Linked DNA regions of Homo sapiens: all the other regions are linked to region 2. The links come from fine-mapping of genetic effects on gene expression. A gene starts in region 2. Each other region holds a variant in brackets. All regions are shown on one strand. Distances are between the middles of the regions.

Region 1 (5,228 bases), 29 kb before region 2:
GCTGGAACCTAGGAGGTTGAGGCTACAGTGAGACATGATTACGCCACTGTACTTTGGCCTGGGCGACAAAGTGAGACCCTGTCTCTAAAAAGAGTTGTTTAATGAAAAATAAAAATAAAAAATAGTAACTGACCAAATATTCTTAACTAAAGGTTAGGACACAATTATGCCTTGTAAGTAAAAATGGTTTTGGCAACAGTGATAGATGGAGACCAAAGAGAGGAAAATAAATGAAAATTAAGTGAGTAAGTGCTTCAAAACACTAATTGATCTTAGGCTACCTCATCCTGCTGGTATAGAAAAGAATATAGAAAGTTATTGTTTTCTGTTTTTATGACAAATGCTGAAATAAATAATTAAGCAAATACTTCTTATTTTGGAGAAGTACCTACTATGCTTTACTTGATGCTTCAATAATGCATAGTAATAAAAATATTTTAAAGCTTAATACCAAATAAATACACGTATCATCACAGTACATGCTGGTATGCTTTAATGAGGAAAAAAAAACAAAAAACTTACATTTTCTTCTATTACCTAAATCAACCTTAACTCTCCTACTTAAACAGCATATCTCAAAAACTAACTACAAGGGAAAAATGTTAATAAGTTGTTAAAGAGTAGGATTCTGAGATTTTTTTTTAAAAATTCCTATTGGGTATATAAAGTTGCTTCAGCTATAAACATTTTAAAGTGTGTTCACTGTGAAAAGAGCTCTATTTCTTGGGTTTATAACATAAAAATTACAGAAATAGTGTGTCTGTAGGGAGAGAAGGGCATACCTACTTTTCTCCAATATAATAAACACAGGAGGATATAGAAGCCAGAGGAGTACTTCTGTCAACTTAAGTTCCTTAAATCTTTATTTCATTTATATCCTTCCAGATGGACCAATAATGTGTTGACAATATATGTGTCCAAATAAAAATGAGAAAACATAAGAGCGCCACTGCACTCCAGCCTGGGAGAGAGCAAGACTCCGCCTCAAAAAAAAAAAAAAAAAAAAAAGGAAAATAACGTAGTACCACGCCATGTACCACTTTATTCCTTTACTGGTTCAGTAAACACATGCTGAGCCCCTACTCTGGGCCAGCAATGGGATACAACAAGGATTCCAGCAATGCTCACAGCCTAGGAAGAGAACCAGAAAGCTACGCAAGGGCAGAGCTGGAGAGGGACCAGATTGTAGAATTTTAAACAAGGAAATGATACAAGCAGCTGAAGAATACATGAGTGGAGCAGACCACGCCAGCAGAAAGAATGGTGTCAGGGGAAGGGTTTGTACTGTGGGCGACTCAGTGGATGACAGTAGCTGCTGAATAAACATTAGTTTCCTTTTTCCTTTTCCTGTACGGGTATTTCTTGAAAAACTTACCTTTCTGCACGAATCACACCACTGTAGTAAGGGGGGTCCCAGGGCATTACTTCCTACAATGGAATAATTCACTGTTAAGGAAAGCTACTGACTCTTTCATAGTTTTTATCAGCAACGTGGCCAGCCTATAGAATGTAAACCAGCTACTGTTCATGTAAATCAGAACAATTTTATAGAATCCCTTAAAAAATTGATAGCTTGGCAGAAAATACCTGGCTCCTTATTTTGACTTCCCTGTAATCAAGAGATAGTGAAGTATAACTAAGACCTACCCCAGAATCTGGGGAAAAGACAAACAAATGTCATTCTGAAGTGGTATCTAACAAAAGTAAACATTAACGAATTATATTAGCCATAATGAAATTTTTCCCAAAATGTAACCCATGTATTAATCCATAAAACACACTGTAGGTAAGATGAGTGTACTAAAGGTAGGATTAAGGTTCTTTCTAAATCTAAGCAAGAAGCTTTGGGTAGATATCAAAAATGAAAGCAGCAATTTAAAATGTAACCAAGGCAGAATTAACTCTAATCTTGGCAAAGAAAATATGTCATAAAGAAGTACTATAGTACTAGTTGCTTTTGATGATTGGCACATAATACTGAAAGAAGGGAAAGCTTGAATACTTGAATGACTGTCCTTCCTTCTAGGTGTCCAGGTGGACAAAAGAGTGGTTAAGAGACCAGGCTGTGAAGACAGACTGCCTGGGCTCAAGTTTCCAATCCATACCAGACTATAAACTGCATGATGACAGGGACTTTGTTTGCATCCTTCCCTATTACATTCCTGTCCCCTGAACAGTACCTGGCCCAGGGTAGTCACTCAGTAAATATTTGTTGAAAGAATCAACAGTACCTCCCAAAGAAGACTGCTGAATGTACTTAAACTATTAAGTAGAATATCTGGCATTGAGTAAGGGCTCAACAAATGTTGGCTACTCTCCTTATTACCATTATCCTTTAACATTTCAGTTTAGGCATAATCTCCTCCAATAACAAGGTGTTATTTCCCATATTCCATGGTAATACTTATATCATGGGATGCATGACAACCTAAGATACTTGTAGGCTTATTTTCTTTCTCCTCATGAGTGCCTGAAGGGCAGGGACTGCGTCCATGGAACCCTAGCCCCACAGTGTTCTGGTCCTGGCACACATTTTCTCTAACAGATGATTATTTGCTATCTGCTAGATGCAGACAGAGTGCAGGCTGTAATCAGACAAAAACAAGAGGATGATAGCCTAGGCAGTAGAAGGGCAAGTGACTCAACAATCAGAGGACAGTATGTCATGTCTACATTGTGCCATGTAAAACACAGCCCACAAGAAGAGTATTTAAATCACAGCGGAAGGTTAGGAAATGTTCTCAAGAAGGCAAAGCCTGAATTGAGTTTTATGATAGAAGCAGTTAATCCAGATGAGAAAGGGAGAAAGGCATTCCTGTAGGTGGTGTTTGTAAATGACTGGAAGCTGCTCACCATGCCATATTTATGTGGCCGGCACGTAAATATTAATTCAAATTAAAGAATCAAAGAAAGCAAAGCAAGGAAAGAAAGCAAAACTAAGTGAATAGAGATCACATGAGCATCACACAGGTATTAGGAGAGAGCAAAGAACACAGCCTCGGCTTGGAGGGGCAGCAGAAGATGAAGCTAGAGAAGGAGGCAAGGGCCAAATCATGAGGGCTTGGCGGGAGCAGCAGGGTAGTAGGAAGGGAAACTGGAGAATAACCAGGAGCTACTGAATAATTTTAAACAACAGAGTGACAAGATCAGATCTGCTTTTTAGACAAATCCCTCTGGTGGCAATTCATTCATTCATTATTCATTCATAGTTCAAATAAGTGTTGACAACCAATTCTATGCCTAACACTGGGCTAAATACATGGCTAAACTGTCTGAATCCAAGACGGCTTCGAGTGGAGCAAAAACAAAAGGCTAGAAACCAGTTAG[G/C]CAATCCCAGTTACCATCTGGGTGAGAATAATGATTGGGATCATAGCCCAGGCTATGGCAATGGGCACAGGAGAAGACACAAGAGTTCACAGGGAGGGAGAATCTGCAGGACCTAACAAATGATTATGGGGGAGGGGAGTGTGCAGTGCCTGGGGTGCTTGTTGAAACACAGATTGTGGAGCTCACCCCAGTTTTTGATTCAGTGGGTCTGAGGTGGGGCTCAAGAATTTGCATTTCTAACAGGCTCCCATGTGATGCTACTGCTTCTGGTCCAGGAACCACACTTTGAGAACCACTGGTCTGGATTAAGTATAGGTCCTGACCAGAGCAGCAGGGTGAATGGTGGCACCATTCACCAAAGCAGGGACTTCATGAGGAGATTGGGCATTTCACAAATATCTGCAGAATAATTGTATCCATAAGCTATATACAAATATCTACAGATAACAGTTTAAAGTCATATTCACTTTTACTGAATTAGCTTTTGGCAACACATTTTGTTTTTTATTTTTCTGTTTCTATAGTCACCAAACTAAATTCTTACCTATTATCTGGTTTCCCAAATAAGCCTACCTACCAGGTCAAGGTGTGCAGATGACTGTGCAGATGACTAACAGTAGTTACTTTGCTAGACACAGCTCCTTCCATAAATTAACAGACTGACATGCTACTCTACACATCGCTGAGTTTAATGGGATTAATCTGTTTCCTAGTGGCTGTATCTGGGAAGCTAGTAAACAGTTTGTAAATCTGCAAGGCCCATTTCCCTAAATCTTCCTTATGACTATGGCTCTGGCAGCAGCAACTAAGTCAAGAACTAATAACAGCATTTGGAAAAGAATGGTGTAGACAACCCCGGCAATCCTGTAGTGCCCTAGAACCAAATGGGAATGAGTCCTAATATCTGGACTCTCGACACTTTTCAGGGCACTCCCCCAATCACCTGGGCAGCATTCTGGCCATAACAATACTTGTCTATACTCTTGGATCACATAAGGAAGATCATATAATCATATGATTGAAAACAACACTTAAGTGTTTTTAGAATGTGGTATACTTTGTTAGTCAAATACTCAATTGGGCACCATAAATTAGCTAACAAATAAGCAAATGAACTGCAACATTAACACTGATGGTTAAAATTGCCACCTGCCAGATGAAGCCTCCACTGAGTCTCCTTAAAGTCTGCTTCAAACTGAGAAGCCAACATTCCACAGAATGAAAGCAGTCTTTGCATGAATATATACACATTGTGTTAGTGTATATACATAAAATATGTCGACTCCTCAACAAAAATGCTGTATGTACAGGCAACATCAGTTTGGGACATAAGAATCAAATATTTCAACATCTTTATTCACCAAAACCGAGGATCAGAAACAAGACTAAATGGACCTGTAGCCTATCACAAGAAAGTTCCTGAATCAAAAGATATTGATTTCAGTTGACAGACTGTCTATATTATAATAAAAATATTCCAACATACTTACGGAATTTTGAGGATTCAGTTTCATTTTCATCCCTCGTATCATCTCAAAATCTTTCAGAGTTCTATAAAACAGGTTTATCATTACTTGTTAGGACAAAATTTTAACAATTACATTATGAAAGGACTAGTTTGCTTATGTTACATTCCAATATTCATAAGATTAGATACAATTAGTAGTGCACACATAAATCACTATTAATCCAAATTTTACCTAAGTGTCATGAGAAATAACAATATATAAAGCAGCATATTACTGCGATTTCTACCTTAAAAAGCATCATGGTGGATAAATGTCTCAAGAGTACTAAAGCTTGGAAAAACTAGCAATGTCATTACAAATATGCAAAGCATTAATCACTAACTTTAAATCACTACTTTTTGCTATACCTTTAAAAGAGACTTAACAAATTAA
Region 2 (5,228 bases):
TGGGAATGACGATACATACCTTACAGCATGGATACAGGTAATAAGTATATGTAAAGTACTAACAGCAGCAGCTGACAAGGTGAGATCTCAGTACATAGTACCAATTATTCTATAACTATCAAATAGGGAGGATGAGTTGACTATGAAGCAATAGATATTTTAGAAAAATGTAATGAACATATTAAAATCATAGGCTGAAACTGGGAGCAAATTTTATACGTTACAAAGACATTTCAATATCTTGATAAAAACAAAAATCACTGATCTAATGGTAATGACCATTCTCTTGTTACCTATTCAATCACACTTGTTAGCACACTCAGGAAGGCAGGGGGAAAAAGCATTTAATATGCACCTACTGCATACCATGAAGTGTGCCTGCTACTTTACATAGGTTCTCATTTAAATCACACAATCCTACAGAACAGAGTATCATTCTTTTACAGATCAGGCCACATGCTTTAAGACGTTAGAAAAAACTTGTTTGAGGTCACAAATTAATATTGGGAAAGACAGAACTCGAACCCGCTCTGTACATCTGTAAAGCCCACACTTTTCCATACTTCTCTATTACAATTTATCTGTTTGAAAGTCTTCTCTCCTGAAAAGGTGAGCTTCCAGACCCAAGAGCCCTGCCCTTCATTTCTTTAACCAGCTATCCAATAGAATGTCTAACACATGGGGGAACTCAATGAAAGAAACAAGTGACCGGAGCAGATGCTAGGCTTTGTTAATTCACTTTGTAGGTGCTTAACGCATAGATTTTCAGAAATACGAACAGGTAAACCTTCAGGCCTGACAAGCCCTACTGTTTCTACAAGAAGGGATGGATGAAGTTAAGCTAGTAATCTCTCTTCAAAATATATTACAAGATAAAAAATAAAATAAAAGAAAGTCAGTGGGAGACAAAGGAAAATCAGGACCAAAAACAAATGTCATCTTTATACTGATTTAATTTGATTCAAGCACAGACTACTTCCACTTCCCAGTACAACCTGCCCATATTGCTCTCGGGAATTCTAACTATCGGATTACCAGTGACCATAATGCTAAAAAACTGAATAAGGCTTTTTTTTTTTCAAGGCAAAAATCAATTCTAAAATTTGAAAATCTGCTATCAGTGCCGAATATCATGATACAAAAAGGGAAAAATAAAAGCTAAAATTAGTTATATCTCATCCACCCAAAATCAGGCTTCCCCTCACGTCTTTCTGCTCAGCGCCTACAAGTAGGTCTCTTCACACCAACTATGTTAATACCAACACTACATACCCTTAAGGAAGGTGGTGTAGCAAATTTCACACAAAATAATTTTTAAATAGACAAAACTGATAATGGAGATAAAACAAGAATCACACACTTTAGCTCAGTGCAACAATACCCTAGACTTGTCTTTATAAGGCAATACAGTATAACGAAATTTTAAAAGGCAAAAATAAAAGTAATCCTTAACCTAAAACGGACAAAATGTACAAACTCCAAGTAGAACAGGCATCAGGTAAGTCCTTTCCAACCTTGCCTTCCTCTCACCTTTCACTAGACAACGCAGGCTAGTGACTTCCTGGGGTAAGAAATCAAAGTGACCAATTCCATGGCACTATGGGAAGTGAGACTCGTCTCAACAGAGTTTTGTGTTTTAAAACAAGAAAGCCCAAAGCTTTGAAATAAATTAATTAATAGATGATGGAATTTCAGGTATTAATGAAATTACCATTACTCGACTGCAGGCAGCCGTGTCCTTGCAAAAAGACCATGTGATGCCGCCTGTGAACGCACAGGGATAGGCCTCTTAAGGCAGGACTGTAGCGCTGGAGCTAAAGGGCTTTAGCAGGGGTGCGCCTGAGTGTATGCAGAGGGCGGGTCCTGGCAGGACGAATTCACCGCCACTGCCAGAACGAACTATTCAGATTCACGTGGAGCAAGGGGCTCATGCAGAAGCAGTTCCCGGACCCGACACTCTGGGTAGGAGACCACTAAACCCGGCCCCTCAAAGCAGAGGTGACCTTGCCCTCATCGAGAGCGCACACAAGACGCCACTGTAAAAGGTGGGTTCGCTGCTCGCCTCCTCCCAGGCCCAAACAATCTCGCCCTGATTGTTGCTGGCCGCGCGGAGCAGGGGTCGGCTTAGCTCGGGGACTGAGGGGAGCTCCTCCTGCGCCGCTCACCCGGCGCTCGCCGAACAGGTCCAAGCGGCTGCCCTGGGGCTTGACATTGAAGGCGGCGCCCACGGGAGACCAGCTGGTGCTGACCCTTCGGGCCCGGATCCCGGCTTCGAGGCTTCCCCGGCCCGCCCGGCGGGGCGGCAGAGCTGCTGCTCTGGCTCCCAAGCCGCCCAGCCTTCCGACGCACAGCATTCTAGCACCAGAGCAGTCCCTTCCTCCAACGCAGATCCCTGCCCTGCTGCTTTCGCTGGGAGCGCGCGCTCCGCGTTTCCAAGGCAGCAGCCCACGCCGCCCCACGTGACGGCCCCGCTTCCGGGTCTGGGCGCGGCCTCAGGACGTGGGCACGTTGTCGTCCAGAGAGCAAGAGCGTCGCTCCCCCTCGCCTTCTCGGCCGCCCTCCCGGTTTACCGCCCCCTGTGTCCAGAGTAAGAAAAGGCTAGGGTTGCGCTTCCCTCCCAAGTTGACTAGGGGTGGGCGCGAGTAAAATCATGACATATTCGAATTCCAGTGGACATTAGATATTCTTTGAGAGACGGCAGGTACTTGAGTAAACAAGAAATGCCCACCATAGGCCTGAAGGAGAAGTTTCCCTTTTAACCTACTCTCTTGGTAAATTTATCCTGCACTTCTCTGTTTGGTGTCTCTGTCCGGTAACTTTTTACTCTTGCATAGCTCAGTTAAAAATTTTAGATGGGAAATAGTGAAAGAAGTCTAATGGGATTTTCCCTCCAGGGTTTCAGAATTGCCTGGGACCCGTGAACCCTTTTTTCCTTCCCCTTTCTCTCTTTTGGAATGGATTGTCTACCCTATGCCTGTCTCCCCCTCCAACCCCCGGTCTTTTAGAAGTGGATTAACTCGTCTCGCTTCACAGGATCACAGATGGAGAGACATTTTGCCACACGATGAATCACACAGTAAGTCTCCTCTGTAGCTTATTTAAATGATGTAGATGGTGAGAGGAGTTGATGCGGAAAGTGTTAAGACTTTTGGTAATGTTGACATGGTGCGAAAATGTATTTTGCACATGAGAAGGAAATCAATTTTGGGAACCAGAGGGCAGATTGGGTTGAACTGTGTCTCCCAAAATAGATGCTGAAGTCCTAACCCTCGGTGCCTGTACATGTGACCTTATTTGAAAATATGGAGTTTGCAATTATGATTAAGATGGGTCATACTAGATTAGGGAAGCTGTTCTTGTAAGAAGAGGAAAATTTGGCTGATACAGGAGGAGGACAGCCACCTGAAGATGGAGGCGGGGACTGGAGTGATGCTGCCACCAGCTGCCAGAAGCTGGAAGCAGCAAGGCTGCATCCTCCTGTATCCCCTTTGGAGGGAGGATGGCCCTGCTGCTACGGTGATCTCAAACTTCCAGCCTACAGAACTGTGAGAAAGTCCGTTTCTGTTGTTTAAAGACTCCCAGTTTGTGTACTTTATTAGGGCGATCCTAGAAAACAAGTAGAGATTCATGTCTGGCAAATAATGATCAAACAATGATTTGTTGGATAGAATGGTGATTAAAACCTAGGTTAGAAAATGAGCAAAATGGGAGGGAAAGCACCAGGACAAATAGCTAATGCATGCAGGGCTTAATACCTGCATAGGTGATGGGTTGACAGATGCAGCAAACCACCACAGCACATTTTTATGTAACAAACCTGCACGTTCTGCATATGTATTCCAGAACTTAAAAATACATTTTTTAAAAAAAGACAAAATGAGCAGTGTCTACAGCTTTCTGGAGTGTGACAGCATCACCAGCTTAAAGCTGTTACTAGTACTAAATGGAATAAACATTTCCCTCTAATTTCCCCTTAATGTCCTCAGAAACACAGATGAGGGATACATCTTCATATGACTCCTCAGAGCACTAAAATGATATCAAAACACTCTTCCCACAAGAAATGCACAGACAAAGGATTCTTCAGATAATAGGAATAAGAAATGTGAAATAAATTAGAATAAACCATGCAGCTATTTTAAATATTTACTCCTGGAAAAATAGTAAGTTACATAGAATCAGTTTTGGGAATAACTTTTCCGTTTTCACCTTTTTATGATTATTGTAATAATTGGAGGAATTAATAAAGTAAAACCATCTGAATAAGTTCATCCCAAGCTGATTCTGATGGATGGTCTGGCAGATTTATAAACTCTCCTCTGTCACTGGCTGCTGAACAGAAGGAACCCTGTGAAAGTTGTGTCATCGTCCTCATCAGCAAACAAGCCATTGAACCTCTCTCCTCCTGTCACCTGCAGCCACATCTCATCCCCGAGCTTCAGCTGCAGGACAATGCTGCCAGAGGCCTGGTCCTCAGAGCTCACGTAAGCATCTCTGGTGTGCAGTATTTTTACTCCGTTTTTGACCAAAGACACCTGAACATTCCTGGAGAAAACAGTGATGTGGTAGGTGAAGTAATAGACCCCAGCAATGTGGCACGTGAATTTCCCCACTGCTGTATCATAATGGTTGAATTCATTATACAGGATCTTATCAAATTTAATGGGCACATCTGAAGAAGGAAACTTGCTCAGCACCGTGAGCCCCACAGTGAAAGCACTTTTTGGCAAGACTAGAGTCTCACCGATTTTCCCTTTCTCTCCTCGATCTCCTTTCCAGCCTCTTATTCCCCGGACTCCTGGCTCACCCTGGGGCCCCGTGGGTCCAGCTTCTCCCTTGGGACCAGGCTTTCCAATAGGGCCCATGGGGCCCGGTAAACCAGTTGGGCCCAAAGGCCCAATGTTGCCCCTTGGCCCCTCAGGACCAGTGGGACCCACGTCACCCTTATTCCCCTTCTGCCCCTGAGGCCCAGTCTCTCCTCGGAGGCCTTTCTCTCCCATGGGCCCTGCAAGCCCCTTGGGGCCATGTTTTCCTGGGGATCCTCTTGAGCCTTGATCACCTTTGATGCCTTTTGCTTCAACTTTTCCATCTGCTCCTAAATAGAGAAAGAGCAAATAAAGAGATAGTTTGTGAAAGATTCCCTTGTGAACAACTTTGGTTTTTCTATAATTGAGCTCACAAATGAAACAAAGTAGTACACAGGTTCAGTATATGCCCAGAGTTTAAAA
Region 3 (5,228 bases), 84 kb before region 2:
CTATGACATTCAGCAGTGTAGGGGTATTAAATGTATTTTTGACTTATGATAGTTTCAACTTACAATGGGTTATTGGGACTTGACCGCATCATAAGTTGAGAAGCATCTGTATAAAATATAAGATACTCAGAGTGGGTATAAAAAACACTATCATGGCCAGGCGCGGTGGCTCATGCCTGTAATCCTCAGCCTTGGGAGGCCAAGACAGGTGGATTATCTGAGGTTGGGAGTTCGAGACCAGCCTGGCCAACATGGTGAAACCCCGTCTCTACTAAAAAAACAAAAGTTAGCCAGGAGTGGTGGCGCACACCTGTAATCCCAGCTACTCAGGAGGCTGAGGAAGGAGAATTGCTTGAACCCAGGAGGCAGAGGTTGCAGTGAGCCAATACTGCGCCACTGCACTCCAGACTAGGAGTCAAAGCAAGACTCCATCTCAAAACAACAACAACAACAACAACAACAAAAACACTATCAAAAAGAAAAAATTCTTTTGTATTATCTTCTAAAATTTAAAGCTTTACTTTTCACATCTCGGTCTTTAACTCTATTTTTTGTGTGCAGTGTGATACAGGGCTGCATTTTTTTTTCCATATAGAGATCAATCACTACAACACCACTTTAAAAAATTGTTCCTTCTTCATCCAATAATCTACAGTGTCACTCAACCTATATTTGAGAGTCTATTAATTTGCTGAGTCTGCCGTTGGGCTCTTGCTCCTGTTTCACTGATATCTGTGCATCCCTACACCAGTGTTAGACTGTCTTAATTCCTACAGCTTTATTTGAATTCAAGTTGGTGGTCAAGTCCACCAACTTGATGTCGGGAATGTTATAGGCTTGATGAATGCATTGACAAACAAATGAAGAAATGCAGAAGTTTCTAAGTAGGAAGAGTAGGCTATCTGTACAAATCTAAACAAACTCTCAGACACTTTTTTTTAAAGGCAAGCCTTAAAATAATGTCTTTTTTTCTCTAAACATAGCTATGCTTCTTTTAAAGACCTCTTAAAACAATTTACACAAAGAGCAAGTGATGGCTACTGAACGTGAATTGTGGAGCTAATCCCAGTAAAGAGATACATCTTTCTATTTTCTCAAAAGGAATTAGGACAAGGCACACGGACTTAGCATCACCCTTCCTTTCAAATTAAAAGTGATTTATGGATTGTTGATTCAGAATTTGGTTGCCACTAATACTTCATATTTGTATGTTAAATGATTACAGAGAAGAAATCTGGATGGTAAGGAAGTTTTCTTTTAAAAAGAGACATAATTACTTTATTATTAGACCTACGATAAAAAAGGGCAGAAGGCAAGCAACTCAGTCAAACTGAAGTTTTGTAGCTTTGGCAAGCATCCCAGTTCTCCTAATGTTAGTCTTCCTAGGACTTTACTACTTACTGGTCATGAAGTTTAACTCATATTCACAAAGAAGAATATAAGATGAGAACAAAAACATACAAGCCCAAAAGCAGGTGAATCAGGCAATGCTCTGTGAACTGGAAAATGCTAGTAAAATCTAGGCAATTGTTATTATTTATTCCATGAATAAATAGTTAGATTATTCTTATCACTATAAATTTTCACTAACACAGATAATCAAGAGCTTGGCAGTAGAAAGTATTAGAATAGTAAATTACATGTAAGATTAAAAAATTAGTTAGTATGACTGACATTATATACCTGTAGCAGATAATTAAGGTTCTAAGCCAATCGAAAACTAATGACAAGAGGTATTATGAAGATAAAATATCCTGTTGCTTCACTTGTCTGGTAAATACGATCTCTTCCCATGCATATTTGAGCATTAGGACCTGAAGATTTAGTGGACAATTGTAGTTTATTGATTAACTTAATCTCTTAGCACAACATATTCTGCTATCCAATCTTAGAGCAAATAAAACCACTTGACATTTATTCTGCTTTTTATAGTTTACAAAACACTTTCAAGTTAGCTCTCCTTCTGTTAGACCAACTAGGCTAGAAGGACATCGACCTGAACCTACCGGTAGTTATCAAACCATTCAGTCTGGGGGGATTGCCAGAGAATGAAAGGAACCCAGAAAAACACCGAGCTGAGAGGCAGAAAGAGAGAGAAACATTTCTAACGACATTGTGGGAGACCTAAATCCAACTTACTTGAAACACCCCTA[T/C]ACCCCTGCACCTTTCAGTTACAAGACTCAATAAATTCCCTTTTCTGTTTAAGTCCGTGTGAACCACGTTTCTATCACTTGCAGCTGAGAAAGGCCTGGGTAACATTAAGTCAGTCACATTGCTAACTGCACCAAGAATCACACTGTTAATTGCACTAGGAGTCACGGTGCTCAACTGCTCCTTACACGAGCCTTTGAGTGATGAAAAAAGCCTGTTTGTTTTGAACCCCCATACAATCACTTAACTACCTAGATGATCTCAGACAGGACATATAATGTGTCTGTGCCTCCAAATGAGCCCCAAATACAAGGATATAATTTAATTTATAAGGTTATTTTGAGAGCTAAATTAGAGATCTTTTCCCAAAGGAATTAGATAGAGTCTGGCGCCTAGAATCCAATAAATGGTAACATTACTCCTGCTCTCTCTCCTGACATGGTACTCAACAAGATAAGATATGTAAAGCATCTATTATAATTCCTGGTACAATGTAAGATACTCAATACATGTTAATTCTCTTTGCAATGAAAATGATTCAGGACTGGTAATCACATTCATCTTACATCACTATTTTTCACATTGTAGAAAAATAACTAAAAAGAAGAATATAGACCAACTCCAATGGCCTTTTTAACCCCCACATTTCCAAAAAGGTACAAAAACACTGTTAGAGGGAGGAAAATAAGAACATATAAATGGGTAGTTGGAAATATTAAATGAACCAGGCAATTTCCAGCATTTGAGCCATGTGAAGCCTCAACATAAATGTAGGGATTTCAAGTTCTCCAAAGGGGAAGATAATCACAAGCTACAGAAGTAATAGCAGAACCACTCAATACACAAAACAGAAGCCAAATGCTGGACTCACAGTATTTGGAACATATGGTAGGCCATAGAATTTCTCTTGTGTTTCCTTGAGAATGTCTGTGGTTGAATTCCTCAGGGGATGCTTCCCATGGTAGATTTGATCCAGAGTGGCATAAAAGACCTAGATAGATAAAAACATCTACTTAGTTTTGGTCGTCCATCCTCACATCAAGATGTGGTTGACCAAAGATGCTATAAGTGCACCAGAACAACAGTTACCAATCACAGTTGAAAACAGTCACAAAAATAAACTTACATGGTTTGAAATGTATTTCATACCACATTTAAGACCATGCTAAAGATTAAAAGGAATGCTCTCAACCTTTTCATAAATAAGAATATTAAAGAATTTTGAACCATACCCATAAGATACTCTTTATGTACAATGGCAGCAAATCAAATATGTGACACAAAACTGGAATTTTGCCAAAATATATGTAGACGGAAGGCCAGGCGCGGTGGCTCACGCCTGTAATCCCAGCACTTTGGGAGGCCGAGGCGGGAGGATCACGAGGTCAGGAGATCAAGACCATCCTGGCTAACATAGTGAAATCCCGTTTCTACTAAAAATACAAAAAAATTAGACAGGCGTGGTGGCAGGCACCTCTAGTCCCAGCTACTCGGGAGGCTGAGGCAGGAGAATGGCGTGAACCTGGGAGGCGGAGCTCGCAGTGAGCCGAGATTGCTCCACTGCACTCCAGCCTGGGAGAGACTCCGTCTCAAAAAAAAAAACCAAACAAAAAACAACAACAACAACAAAAAAATCTATATCTATCTATCTATCTATCTATCTATCTATCTATCTATCTATCTATCTGTAGGCAGAAATATACAAAACCAGTTACAACTTTAGACCCGCTGGATCTAACAAATGTTGTTTGGTTTCCTCCTGGAATCCTGATATATCTTAAATGAGAGAAATGAAACGGTCAGAATTCTAGTTTTGTGATAAAAGGTGAAAGAAAATTAAATAGGTGTGGTGGGGGTAGAGAAAGAAATAGCAATGCAGCATCTCGTGAGTATAGATGTATCGAAGAATTCTGATGCAGCTGTTGGAGAGGTTGGAACTAGACTCCCACACCTGGTGTCAGGAAGTACAAAGGAAGCAGCTGCTGTATAGGGAGGGCTCAACTAGATGACCAGGGGAAAAGGAGCACTCTCCTCTGAGTAGAGGATATAGGCCACTGAAACACAGTGGGAGAAGAAAGCATTAAAGAAAGTTTGGACATGAAATCTGCTGTTTACAAAGTACTGAAAACTAAATTTTGCAAAGAAATCTAAAATAAACATAAAGCATTTTTTCACTGCAACATCTGACTCAAATATTGTTTTTCAACACTGACTTGAACATTTGACTTCATGCAGGCAAGTAGAAAATGCTTTATTTTAAAGGACAAATTTTGACACGCAATTATGCTTCTGATATGTATCTTTGTGATTCAGAAATGGGATTTGTAGAGAATGTGCAGCTGTTGACTTGAAAGAAGTGAGGATTAGTTTGGTTAAAAGAGAAAATTTAAATGACCTCTGGCTTCTGGCTGCATCTAGATATAGAATTATGGTTCTAAATTATAAAGTTAAGTTTAAACCTTCCCTAGAAAAATACAGACATTTCCTAAATATAAATATTGCTTTCTTCTAACTGGTAATCTAAACATATAGCTAAATATAGCTCTTTCAATTCTACATTTTATAATGAGTAACGATGCATAAAGATAATCAGGGAGGCCAAAATTACTCAATGTCTTACCTATATTCTAACAGAGTAAATTATCAGGAACTGAAACTCTTACATTCTAACCTCAACTGAGGTGTTATTTTGCCCCAATGTATAAATAAATCAGAATTCAAGAGTTTCATTTCTTCAATTATGCCTTTTACAAAATGATATAAACATGGGGTAACTTTTTTGAATTATAAAAACAGAGCAAAATAAATTAAATATGAAAACAGAGCAAAATAAATTAAATGTGCATTCTTTTTATGCTTATTTGCTGATAAACTAAACAATTCCAAAGACATGAGCCTATCTGCCTACCCAGGGAGTCATGCATTCCTGGGGCCAAGAAACTTATTAAGTCACAGAAAAATGAAGAGCCTATTTTTAAAACAATAATTTTAAAAAATGTACAGTTTTAAAAACAGTGTTTTTTTTTTGTTTTTTTTTTGAGACAGAGTCTCGCCCTGTCGCCCAGGCTGGAGTGCAG

Alleles and levels. Alleles are on the strand shown, and positions count from the first base shown. SD is a standard deviation of normalised expression in the study named. Not every link is listed here.
With allele C in place of G in region 1, the expression in aorta of the gene that starts at base 2,434 in region 2 is higher (moderate effect, 0.50 SD a copy in GTEx).

What was found. PIP is the estimated chance that this variant, and not a neighbour inherited with it, causes the effect.
Region 1: its variant is fine-mapped to the expression of MIPEP in aorta (GTEx, PIP above 0.99).
Region 3: its variant is fine-mapped to the expression of MIPEP in thyroid (GTEx, PIP above 0.99). The same link has a PIP of 0.9 or more in lung and visceral fat.

What each region holds. Positions count from the first base shown.
Region 1 is chr13:23,857,485-23,862,712 of GRCh38, forward strand. MIPEP (mitochondrial intermediate peptidase) reads right to left here. Exons shown (of 19, transcript NM_005932.4): 9 at 4,818-4,878; 10 at 1,376-1,428. Among named protein-coding and RNA genes, the nearest start is that of PCOTH, 29 kb to the right of the region's middle. The variant G/C (reference allele first, on the strand shown) is at 3,328.
Region 2 is chr13:23,886,967-23,892,194 of GRCh38, forward strand. MIPEP (mitochondrial intermediate peptidase) reads right to left here and starts at 2,434. Exons shown (of 19, transcript NM_005932.4): 1 at 2,166-2,434. The coding sequence starts at 2,354. C1QTNF9B (C1q and TNF related 9B) reads right to left here. Exons shown (of 5, transcript NM_001007537.3): 5 at 4,133-5,095. The coding sequence ends at 4,323. It overlaps PCOTH (prostate and testis expressed opposite C1QTNF9B and MIPEP), which reads left to right and starts at 1,902. Exons shown (of 4, transcript NR_172510.1): 1 at 1,902-2,045; 2 at 3,034-3,076; 3 at 4,419-4,565; 4 at 4,647-5,137. RefSeq lists enhancers at 2,214-2,714, 2,774-2,833.
Region 3 is chr13:23,802,928-23,808,155 of GRCh38, forward strand. MIPEP (mitochondrial intermediate peptidase) reads right to left here. Exons shown (of 19, transcript NM_005932.4): 16 at 3,023-3,142. Among named protein-coding and RNA genes, the nearest start is that of PCOTH, 83 kb to the right of the region's middle. RefSeq lists an enhancer at 3,995-4,144. The variant T/C (reference allele first, on the strand shown) is at 2,154.